Linked DNA regions of Homo sapiens: region 1 is linked to region 2. The links come from fine-mapping of genetic effects on gene expression. Tissue or cell type: whole blood. Region 2 holds a variant in brackets; the other region holds the start of a gene. All regions are shown on one strand. Distances are from middle to middle.

Region 1 (5,000 bases), 59 kb before region 2:
AAAAAAAAAAGAAAAAAGAAAAAAGGAAACCACAAGCAGTTTCCAAACAGAACAACACCAGGGTCTGCCTGACATTAAACATGAAAACCTCTGTGCCTGTTCCACAAGCAGCCTCCCTTAGGCCACCTTAACCCAAATCTGAAATCCTCCCTCCAGCCCCCAAGTGACCCAGCCCAGTCAATTCAGCCTCTTGACTTTCCCAGCAACCTCCCTCACCTTTCCCACCTCACCATCCCAGCTTTGCCCCAGCCCTGCCCCCATTCCAAACCTCCAGGCCCTGCCCCTCATCCACCCTCCACACAGCAGCCAGGCAAGCGGTCTCCAGAACAGAAGCCAGATCAGACCCATCACTGGAAGCCCTCGCTTCTCCATGCCACCTTAACATAACACCCCACGCTCCGCCCCAGCAACAAACCCGGGTCTCTCACGCCTGCTCCCCCTCGGTATTTGAGGTTACTTCTGCTCACAGCTCTGCCTCACCTCCACCCTCTGCCCACTAAGCCGTCACCTTGGCTCTGTACTTTCTGGCTGTGTGACCCTAGGTAAGTGACTTAATTTCTCTGTGTCTATTCCTTCAGTTTCCCCATCTGTAAAATGCAGATAATAAGGCAGTTGTGAGAATACAACAAATTGAACTCATTGTATCTGCCTAACAGCCCTCACAGGCAGATTCTTTATCGTCGTCTCCCAGGCAGGCAAGCTGAGGCCCGGAGAGGAGAGATGACTTGCCCAAGGTGTCCCAGCCAGGCCTGCTACAGCCAGGCCTTCTGACTTCTTTGCCAGTGCTCCCACACACTGCCCACACCCTCAAGAGCCTAGCGCTGCAGTGCAAGGACACCCACCACACCAGTGAGCTCGGTGACACGTGGGTGGGGGGCAGTGCCACTGAGTCTTGCTGAACACAAGGGAAAAGGCCTGGCATCTTGACCCAAGGCCTCAGGAGCAGAGACTGCAGAGGGCCACGGCTTTGGAGAGATGGGAAAAATGACCTGGCAGGGCCCAGGGGGACAGATGCCACCCTGGGAGGGGCACTAGTAGCTCCCTTCCCCGGTAGGGGCAGACCCGCCCAGGAGCCTCAGCTTGTCAGCTGTGGAATGTTGAATTCTGTTCCCCAAGGCCAGCTCCCAGGCTCTCAACCGGGGAGATCCTCTCCCAGCCGCCAAGGACTCGCCATTGTCCCTCCCTGCCCCTCCTGGCAGGTCAGCCTCCTTGTGCGGGACTGGGGTGGGCAGAGGACTGTGACCCACCCCACTCTGCAGGAGCCTAAGGTGAGGCACCTGACCCAGGTACTACTGGAAGGGAAAGGAGGCCGGGGAAGGGGCCTGGCGGCTCCCTTCACGCCAGAATCTCCTTACCGGCTAAACCAGGGGTGGGGCTTGGCACGCATCCCACATCCCAGGGTAGGAAGGAGGGCTGGGCGAGAGGGGGCAACCTGCACCTAGCACGCCCCTGGGGTCTTCAAGGAAACACCTTCCCTTTCTCCACCAGGCCTCGGGATTATTTAGGGAGACTCCCTACCCCAACCCCGACCCCACGCTGTCGCTAGGACCCGCCCCCAGCAATCCGGGCCTCTGTAGCTACCTCGGGTGGTCCTGGAAGTGGGCGTGGGTGTGGCAGAAGTGGGGGGATGGTCCCGAGCTCCAAACTCTTGGGGCAGGGAGTGGTCTCCCCCAGCAAAAGACTGAATCTCCCTCTCCCACCACCCCCCAGCACAGGGCAAGGCGCAGACCCCGCGCTCACCCAGAAGACAATGTTGAAGCCAAACAGGAAGTATTTCCCGCAGCAGCCGACCTCAGGTTCCTGGAAATGCTGGTGCTTGCCGGGCATGGTGAGCGGCCACCCGCCGGCCCGGAAACCGGAGCCGGGAGCCAGGCCCAGCGCCCCGCGGGCCGCCCTGGGCTAGAGCCGCCCGGGGCCTAGCCGGGCGGCTGCGGCTTCATGGCCTCGGCCACACAGAGCGCCGGTCGGGCCCCGCCCGCCCCTCAGGGACCGCCCTCAGCATCCAGACCTCCTTGCCCGGAGCCCTGCTGTCCCCGCCTCTGGACCGGGCCCCGCCCCCACAGCCCTCAGTCCCTTTGGAGTCCCGCCTCCTGACCTGGCTCCGCCCCCATAGATCAACTCAGTCCCGCCTGAGCCCCGCCTCTGGACCTGGCTCCGCTTCCCGAGCTCCGCCCCCACAGCCTGATTCGGACCTCCTCGCAGCCCCGCCTTCGGCCAGGCCCCGCCCCCGCGCAGGCCGCCGCCGCGTTTCCCAGCGTCCTGCAGACCCGCCCGGGACGCCGGCTGATGGCGCCGGAGGCCGCCGGGGTGTAGAAGCCTTGCTTCCCCTGCTGGGTACCAGCGCCATCCCAATCCCCAGCCTGCTGTTGGAGCCCATCCCAGGGGAAGGTTAACTGCTGCTCTGGCAGGCGAATGGGGAAGCTGGTCCGGATTGAGTTTTTAACACGTGCAGGACGTTTTGTCATTGTGGAGTCGCATCAGGCTCACCTTCACCCAGCGGAAATCCAGCTCTACTTATCCTGACTCAAACTCAGGCCAAACGAGGGCCTGGGCCTTGGTGCCACGCCGGCTGCGCCCTGCCAGGGGCATATGCCCCCCGGAACCTGGCTCAAGCCCCCTTGGTGGCTGAGTTTCCCCAGCCACACCCCCTGTCCTCCATACTGGCCAGGGTCCCGGTCAGGCTCCTTGGTACCCAGTGATCTCACATGAGCCCCTGTAAGACAGGACAGAGGCAGATCAAAGTTTGGGGGAACCTGAATCTTACTCCAGTTTGAAGCCCTCTTAAAAATAATTCCAACTTTGTTCAGAAGTATTTATTTAAAACAGGAACAGAAAGATGCTTAAGCTTTTATTATCAAGTTTATCCACTTCCACCACTTCTACCAGAACCTTGGTGAGGCCTAGCCCAGCATCCCTCCACCTCCACTTCAGTCTGGCCCTGAGGCAGGCAAGGCCCAGACAGCCCTGGTCACAGCTGGGGAGAAGGGGAGCGGCCTTGCAAGGCTCTCTCAGTCCTCAGCAACCCACGTATCCCTCTGTACAAATGATGGCGTTCACCCTCCAGAATGTCTGTGCCCTTGAGCCCACCACCCATGGAAGAGTCTGTCTCTCAGGCCACCTCACCTCCTTCCTGGGTGGAAACAGTAAACGCTGGACTATGGGTTTCTCCGCCTACCATAGAGCCCTCCTTCCCCGCCATGACTCACCCCACCCTCAGGAGTTTTTTCCACCCTGCTGCTGTCCTGTGGCCCCAGGACAAGCTAGGTCCTCAGACTGCCACCACTACCCCCATCTAGCCCCTAAGGCTCAGGCCCCAACTCATGTTAAAGAGTGTTTGCATTCCTGTTCACTTGAGGACAGGTAAGAACTAGGCTGTCTGATCCCCAGTCCCGCCCCATCCCCCAAAGTAATGAGGCTCAGTGGCGGCTGTCCCATTACATAGGAGGGGTGCCAAGGCCCCCCTCACACCACAAACTTGTTCTTGGCTAGGGAGTTGCTCTTGGTGGCTGTGTCTGCATGGGCCTGGTACCCAATGATGGTCTTTGGGGAGAGGCCCAGGCGCTCTTTGTATACACGCCTGCAGGTGCGGGGGACACAGAGGAAAAGAGACACAGGTAGTCATCAGAGGGTCCTAGAGATAACTTAGGCCACCAGACTCCTACCCTCATTCTGGCCACAGCCACACCTGTTGTGTCTTACCCATGTGGAAACCCAAAATATGACCCCCTTAATGCAAAAGGAGAGCTGCACTGCCGTAAGAGAAAGTTAGAAATCTGAACGCCAGACCTTCCATACAGGTGGGCAAGGCAGAAGGGAGGGAGGCTATGGAGACTTTCAGAGGTCTCCCATGCAGGCCAAGCCCCCTCCACCCACCTTCCCTCTAGCAGAGACCCAAGTCCCCACCCTGTGCCAGAGACCCTCCTCACCCAACGTGCAGCACGCCCGCCTGGTTTTCCGCCTCCCTCGTCCACACAGCGATCTTGTCCCCCTTGGTGCGGATGTTGACGACGGCCCCACATACCTCTCTGCTGTGTTCCTCAAAGCTCTCCCCGATCAGACACAGCAGCTGGACCCGAAGTAGGGGGTTGTGAGATCACCGGCTGGGACATAGGGACTGGCCTGCCATCCTTGAGACCACTGCCACCATGAGACCCACACAGCCCGTCTCTTCCCCTGAGGACCCTCCTCCTCCAACTCACCGTCTCCAGCCACAGCCGGTCCAGCTCAATGTGGCGCTGCTGCTTGGCCAGGCTGACCAGCCAGCGGCCACCCCGTTTATTCCTGCTGTCCTCCCACATGGGCTGGATGCCATCCTGCAAGGCAGATGGCAAGTCAACTGCCTCCCTGTGTTCAAAGGGAAATGGGGACCCACCCACCATCCCGGCCTTATCCGCTCTCTGCTGAGGCCCTAAGTAGGCCAGATTCTCTTATCCTCCCTTCCCTCAGTGCAAGCAGGTTCCACCCCCAGCCACTCAGCTCCCCCCGACAGACAGCACTGGTCACCTTGTATAGCCTTGTATATGTGCATGTCTCTTTTACTGAGTTCCTTAAGACAAGCATTCAAATCGGGGTGGATTAAGGAAGCCTCAGGGGCAGACCCCAATGCAGGCAAGGGGGACATCCCAGGCTTGGCTGCATGGTTCCCAGGCAGGGCAGAAGTCACTGGGGAGATCTCTAAACACAATGTCAGCCCTCCAGGGATGGGTGTGGCATCAATGAGTGTCCTCAAGCAATTCTGATGCCCTTCCCTAGTTAAGGAGCCAGGTCAGAAATCTCTCCCTCTCCCTCTTCCCGCCTCTTAAGGTCCTCCAAGGTGCGGCTTGGGCCTGACCTACTCTGTCCGGGCTCCTGTAGAGCATTTCCTCCAGTCAGAAACCACAACTCTGCTGAGAGGTGGCCCGTAGCTCCCCACCCCCACCCCTCTGAGGGATTAACGCAGTGGAGTCCGGGAGGGATCAACCCCTTGTCCCTTTGCGGGAGGGAAAGAGGAGAGCAGAGCT
Region 2 (5,425 bases):
ACAGAGTTGAAGAGTCAGGAGCCTGGATCACCCAGCAGGCCCCTCCTGCTACCGCTTCTCCCCCTCAACCCCACCCCCAGGCCTCTGGGCACTCACCGAGCTGCAGAATCTATGTCCTGAATGTCCACAATGTATACTGTAGTCCTGGTTGCCTGGGTAAGAGCCCTGCAAAGAAGGCAGATGTCACAGAGGCCTGGGGTCTTAGCCTGGGCCTGTGGCCAGGGCTGTGCCAGTGGGATTAAGAATTGTATGAGTGAGAAAGGGCACCTCCTCTGGACAGCTCTGTTGGCTGAGTAGGTAGCATCTCTGTGAAAATTACAAAAGGAAATCCCTTCCTCTGGGGCTGGGTGAATAGCTTAGCAAGCAGAGTGCCCTTGTGCAACACACAGCCTTCACAACTGTACACGGCAGCCTTGTTCCAAGGCTTCCCTCTGCCCTTGGCTGGGTATGGGCTTCTGGGGACATGCAAGAACGTCGTGCAGGTGAAAGTACAGGGTTGAAGACAGGGACAAGGTCAAATGTGGGTCAGGAACAGGATTGAGAGACATCCCATCCAGGTTTTGTCGGGGACCAGGCTCCTACACCCTGTTCTTCCTACCCCTCCCTCCGGGGCTCCCCAGACCTACGCATTAATCGCCTGTCTGTTGGCGCCCACCTCCTCCTTCGGTGTGGAGAACTGCAGCCGCGAGCGGTAACTCTGGTCCACGGTGAAGAGCTGGGAAGGGGGTGTGCAGGAGATGAGGCACCAGGGACCCTGGGGGCTGGCAGAGGGCGTTGGGGGCTGGAGGTGGGACCAGCACTCACATTCAGGGTGGTGGTGGCTTCCAGGAAAGGACCCAAGGAAGGTCTGTCCCTGGCCTGGACTGTCACTTGGTAGGTGCCTTGGAGAGTGGAGTCGAGGCTGGTCACCGGCCTGCGGAAGGCGGGAGGCGCAGGTCAGTCTTGGAACCCAAGCTGAATCCTCAGGACCCTTGTAACCTCCAGGATGGGGGACTTGCTGCCTGAAAGCTCCTATCGGGCCCCTCCCCGCAACCTCCCTCCCGGGGCCGCCCGCAGTTACTGAATGCTCCCAGCGAACACGTCGGCCTCGGAGGAGGTGAAGATCGAGAAGACACCCTGGAAAGGGATGGTGGCCCCGTCCTTAGAGATGAAGTCTACTCGGAGGATGGAGAACAGGATGACGCCATTGTTCCCTGAATCATCGTCTCTGGCCTGGGAGCAAGAGTGGACAATATCTGGGGGCCCAGCCAGGCCAGGCATCCCTCCACCCCAGCAGGGATCAGAGGCAAGGGTGGCCTGGGAGGCTGGCCCTCACCGTCTCTATCCGCCATCCCCACGCTGCCCCGAATAAGCAAATGGTTTCAAAAAACAGTGTGTCTGCTCTGCAAATCCAGATTTGGACAAGAACCTGCCCCTGTTCCCCAACTCCAAACAGATCACTGCCCTAAGTCCCTCACATGTGGAAATCCTGCCCTGCTCCCCCTACACCCCTCCACTGCCATACTCTCTCTCTCTCTCACACACACACACTCACACACACAGTCTCTCTCACATACACACCCTCTCACACACACACACTCTCACACACTGTCCCACTCACACTCAGTCTCACCCTAACACACACTTACACACATATGCACACACACTCATACACACCCTCACACACACTCTCACACACTGTCCCACTCACACATACACTCACTCACCCTAACACACTCACACACATGCACACACTCATACACACCCTCACACACTTATCCTCTCACACTCACATACACTCACACACCCTCTCACACTCACACACTTATCCTGACACACACACTCACACCCTCACTCTCTCATGCACTCACCACACACTCAATTCACACACACTCACACAAATACACTCAATTCACACACATTCACACACTTGCACAGTCACACACATACACACCCACAATCACCTACATACCCACACACTGTCACACACATTCACATACACTCACTCACCCTTATACACACCCTCAGGCACACACATTCACACTTAGACACACACACACTGGCGTGCACACACACAGCGATGCTCAGATTTCCTAAGCACCTCCCCTGGGATCCCTCATTTCCGTGCGGGGAGTACCAATTCCCCTAGTAGACCATGAAGCTGGTTGGGGAGGGGACACAAGCATTTTTATTCATTCTAGTGCCTTTTAGAGAAAAATTTAACCAGCACACAGAGCTTCGAGTTCACCAACGTTACTGTTAAGGATAGGCCAACACCAGTGCTTAGGTCTTAAAAAGGAATCTATTTAAAGAAAATTGCCGTGGCTAAACTCTTGACATTAGAACCAAATTGGCAGAAGATTGGGAAGCTGTCTTAAGACTTGAAAGTCACACAGTCACTGTCTCTAGCATGAACGTCAACCTAGAGAGGGAGAATTACTATCCCCATTTTACAAGAGGAAGCTGAGGCTCCGAGAGACCCTGTCCTTACACTCGGCTCTAAGTGGGGAAGGCCAGCCCTGTCCATCTCTTGTACCCATGTCCTTTCCAAAGCATAGGGAATGGCACCCACATGCCACCTTCTGGGAACTGCTAGCTTCTTGTTGAACAGGGAAACGGAGTCCCAGAGAGGGTAGGCAGCTCTCCAGGTCAGTAAGAAGCCCAGCCAGGCCCAGCCCTCGGTGGTGTGGGAAGCCTCATCCCCACACGGCATGGCCACCACCCCTAATAAACTTGCCACATCCAACACCATAAACAGCTGAAAGCCTTTTTATGACTTGGCTCCAATAATTTATTTATTT[A/T]TTTATTTTTTTTTGAGGCAGAGTTTCACTCTTGTCGCCCAGGCTGGAGTGCAATGGCGTGATCTCGACTCACCGCAACCTCCGCCTCTCGAGTTCAAGTGACTCTCCTGCCTCAGCCTCCCAAGTAGCTGGGATTACAGGCATGCACCACCACACCCAGCTAATTTTGTATTTTTTAGTAGAGATGGGGTTTCTGCATGTTGGTCAGGCTGGTCGCAGACTCCCGACCTCAGGTGATCCACCTGCCTTGGCCTCCCAAAGTGCTGGGATTACAGGCTTGAGCCACCGTGCCCAGCTGGCTCTGAGAATTATTTAATGACAAGGCACTGGCTTAATTTACAATTAGCTATGAGTTCTCTGTATTACTCAAGAATTCTGGTATAGTAAGAAATATCTGGACTGCAAGTGGTATTTACGGTCATGACATTTTTATGAATGCTACATTTATCACAGTGAAGTTTGATTACATTGATTAGACAGGTGTTGGTTTCCCTTCTGGGGTTTTCTTTTTCATGTGTTGGAGCCCATATATTTTCTTTCTACCATGGAAGGCCTGAAGGCCTCAGCCCTGTGTCCCCTGGGGCTCATATGACCAACAAAGGCTGGAGCCAAGAACTTACCCGGACAGAAGCCACCTCCCGGTTGGGCAGCACGAGTTCAGGGATGATCACTGCAGGTGTGAACGGGAACGGGGTCAGCGGGGTCGGGACACTGCCCACCTGGACCAAGGCTGGTCACGAGCCCAGCTCAGGGCTCATCCCCCTAAACCTGCCCTCAACCTCTCTACCAAAAGAGACCCCTATTACAGCCACCACTGGGCCAGTAGTTAGCAAGTCATCCACCTCCCATTGTCACAGGTGAGGTCACAGGCCCACAGGACCATGCGGAAATGGAGGCCCAGAGAGGGAAGTCCTGGCCCAGGGCCAGACATTAGGTCGGACAGAGCTGGAATGAAAACTCCAGTGTTGGCTGGGCATGGTGGCTCATGCCTATAATCCCAGCACTTTGGGAGGCCAAGGCGAGCAGATCACTTGAGGCCAGGAGTTCAAGACCAGTCTGGCCAACACAATGAAACCCTGTCTCTACTAAAAATACAAAAATTAGCCAGGTGTGGTGGCGCATGCCTGTAGCCCCAGCTACTCTGGAGGCTAAGGCATGAGAATTGCTTGAACCTGGGAGGCGGAGGTTGCAGTGAGCTGAGATCGTACCATTGCGCTCCAGCCTGGGCGACAGAGCAAGACTCCGTCTCAAGAAAAAAAGGAAAGAAAAAAGAAAACTCCAATGTCCTCTCCTATTGCAGCCCTAGGAAGATGCAGGATTAGAGGCCTTCCCCCCTTTCTAAAGGCTCCCCCTGGGGTCCAAGGAGGGTCTGTCGGGGTTGCTCAAAGGCGGCCTTATGGAGCAGGGGTATGGTGTGTGAATGGGGTTGCTGCTTACCAAAAGTCTTATTCTCAGGCAGAAAATAGGGTGCATTGTCATTCACGTCCTCAATGGTAATGAGGAGGCTTCCTAGGAGACAAGGTCAGCTGGCTTTGGCTCTGGGCAAAAGCTTGACCCAAAGAGCCTGGGCCTCAACCCTGTGCCCCACAGCCTCAACCCCATGCCCCGCAGCCTCAACCCCGTGCCCCGCAGCCTCAACCCTGTGCCCCGCAGCCTCAACCCCGTGCCCCGCAGCCTCAACCCCATGCCCCGCAGCTTCTCTCCCATGTGTTCCCCCATGCTCAGTCCCCTTCCCTGCTCCTGACCCAGAATGCCTGATCGGTCTTCTCTGGCCTGTGTGGGTGGGAGTATCATCCCAGACCTCAGAGCAGATAAGCAGCTTGTCAAAGTCACACAGCAATAGTGGTGGGCCAGGATTGGGCCCAGCCTAGGTAGATCTCACCTATGACATTATACTGACACATTCTAACTATATAAGCTGGTTGTTTAAATACCCACTTTCTGCCTCAGTTTCCTCATCTATAAAATTGGATAGGGAACACCTACCCCATGGGTTGTGTGGAAGTGGAAAAATTCTTACAAGGTGCCTGGTGTAGTTCTTGGCTGTCATAAGGACTCAATATATGCTAGTTGTTAATGTGATTATTATTGCTATTTGGTGTCAGAAGTGGGATACAAGCACACATCTAGCTCTGCAGTGTTATCTTTCTTTCACAGCATCTTGTAAAATAATGGCATTAATTTGATGCTACTGCATGCCAGGCACTGCAATAAATGCCATACATCCATATTCTCATTGAATCTTCACAGCCCACCCCACTGCCCAACTCCACTGGACAGATGGGGAAACTGAAGCTTGGAGAGGGTTTGGGACTTTCCCAGTATTTGCAGCTGGAAAGGGCTGGAGCCAAGATCTGAGCCCAGACCTTGTGAGTTCCAGCCCAGGGCTCCTTCCCGCGGCCCCTAAGCTATGGCCTGCCAAGCCCTGCAAGGACAGGCTGCCTTACCATTGTTGCTGTAGGCCTGGAAGCCGGGGTCCGTGGCTAGGTCACAGGCCCGCACAACCAGCGTGACCAGGTCACAGGCCTCGTAGTCGATGGCTTTGCTCTGGTTGATGTACACAGAGCCGTTGGCCGCCACTGAGAACCAGCCCCAGCATAGGCTGCCCACATCGACCCCGGCCTTGGTGCAGAGAATGTTCACAA

The links. PIP is the estimated chance that this variant, and not a neighbour inherited with it, causes the effect.
Region 1: TSPAN17 starts here. The variant in region 2 is fine-mapped to the expression of TSPAN17 in whole blood (INTERVAL, PIP above 0.99).

Annotation. Positions count from the first base shown.
Region 1 is chr5:176,644,443-176,649,442 of GRCh38, reverse strand. TSPAN17 (tetraspanin 17) reads right to left here and starts at 1,959. Exons shown (of 9, transcript NM_130465.5): 1 at 1,741-1,959. The coding sequence starts at 1,827. It overlaps EIF4E1B (eukaryotic translation initiation factor 4E family member 1B), which reads right to left. Exons shown (of 9, transcript NM_001099408.2): 7 at 4,200-4,313; 8 at 3,927-4,066; 9 at 2,799-3,577. The coding sequence ends at 3,463. RefSeq lists enhancers at 1-699, 3,061-3,355, 3,626-4,136, 4,718-5,000 and a silencer at 1,728-2,387.
Region 2 is chr5:176,584,818-176,590,242 of GRCh38, reverse strand. CDHR2 (cadherin related family member 2) reads right to left here. Exons shown (of 32, transcript NM_017675.6): 19 at 5,228-5,425; 20 at 4,218-4,289; 21 at 3,401-3,450; 22 at 1,061-1,212; 23 at 805-913; 24 at 627-715; 25 at 97-165. Among named protein-coding and RNA genes, the nearest start is that of GPRIN1, 23 kb to the left of the region's middle. The variant A/T (reference allele first, on the strand shown) is at 2,781.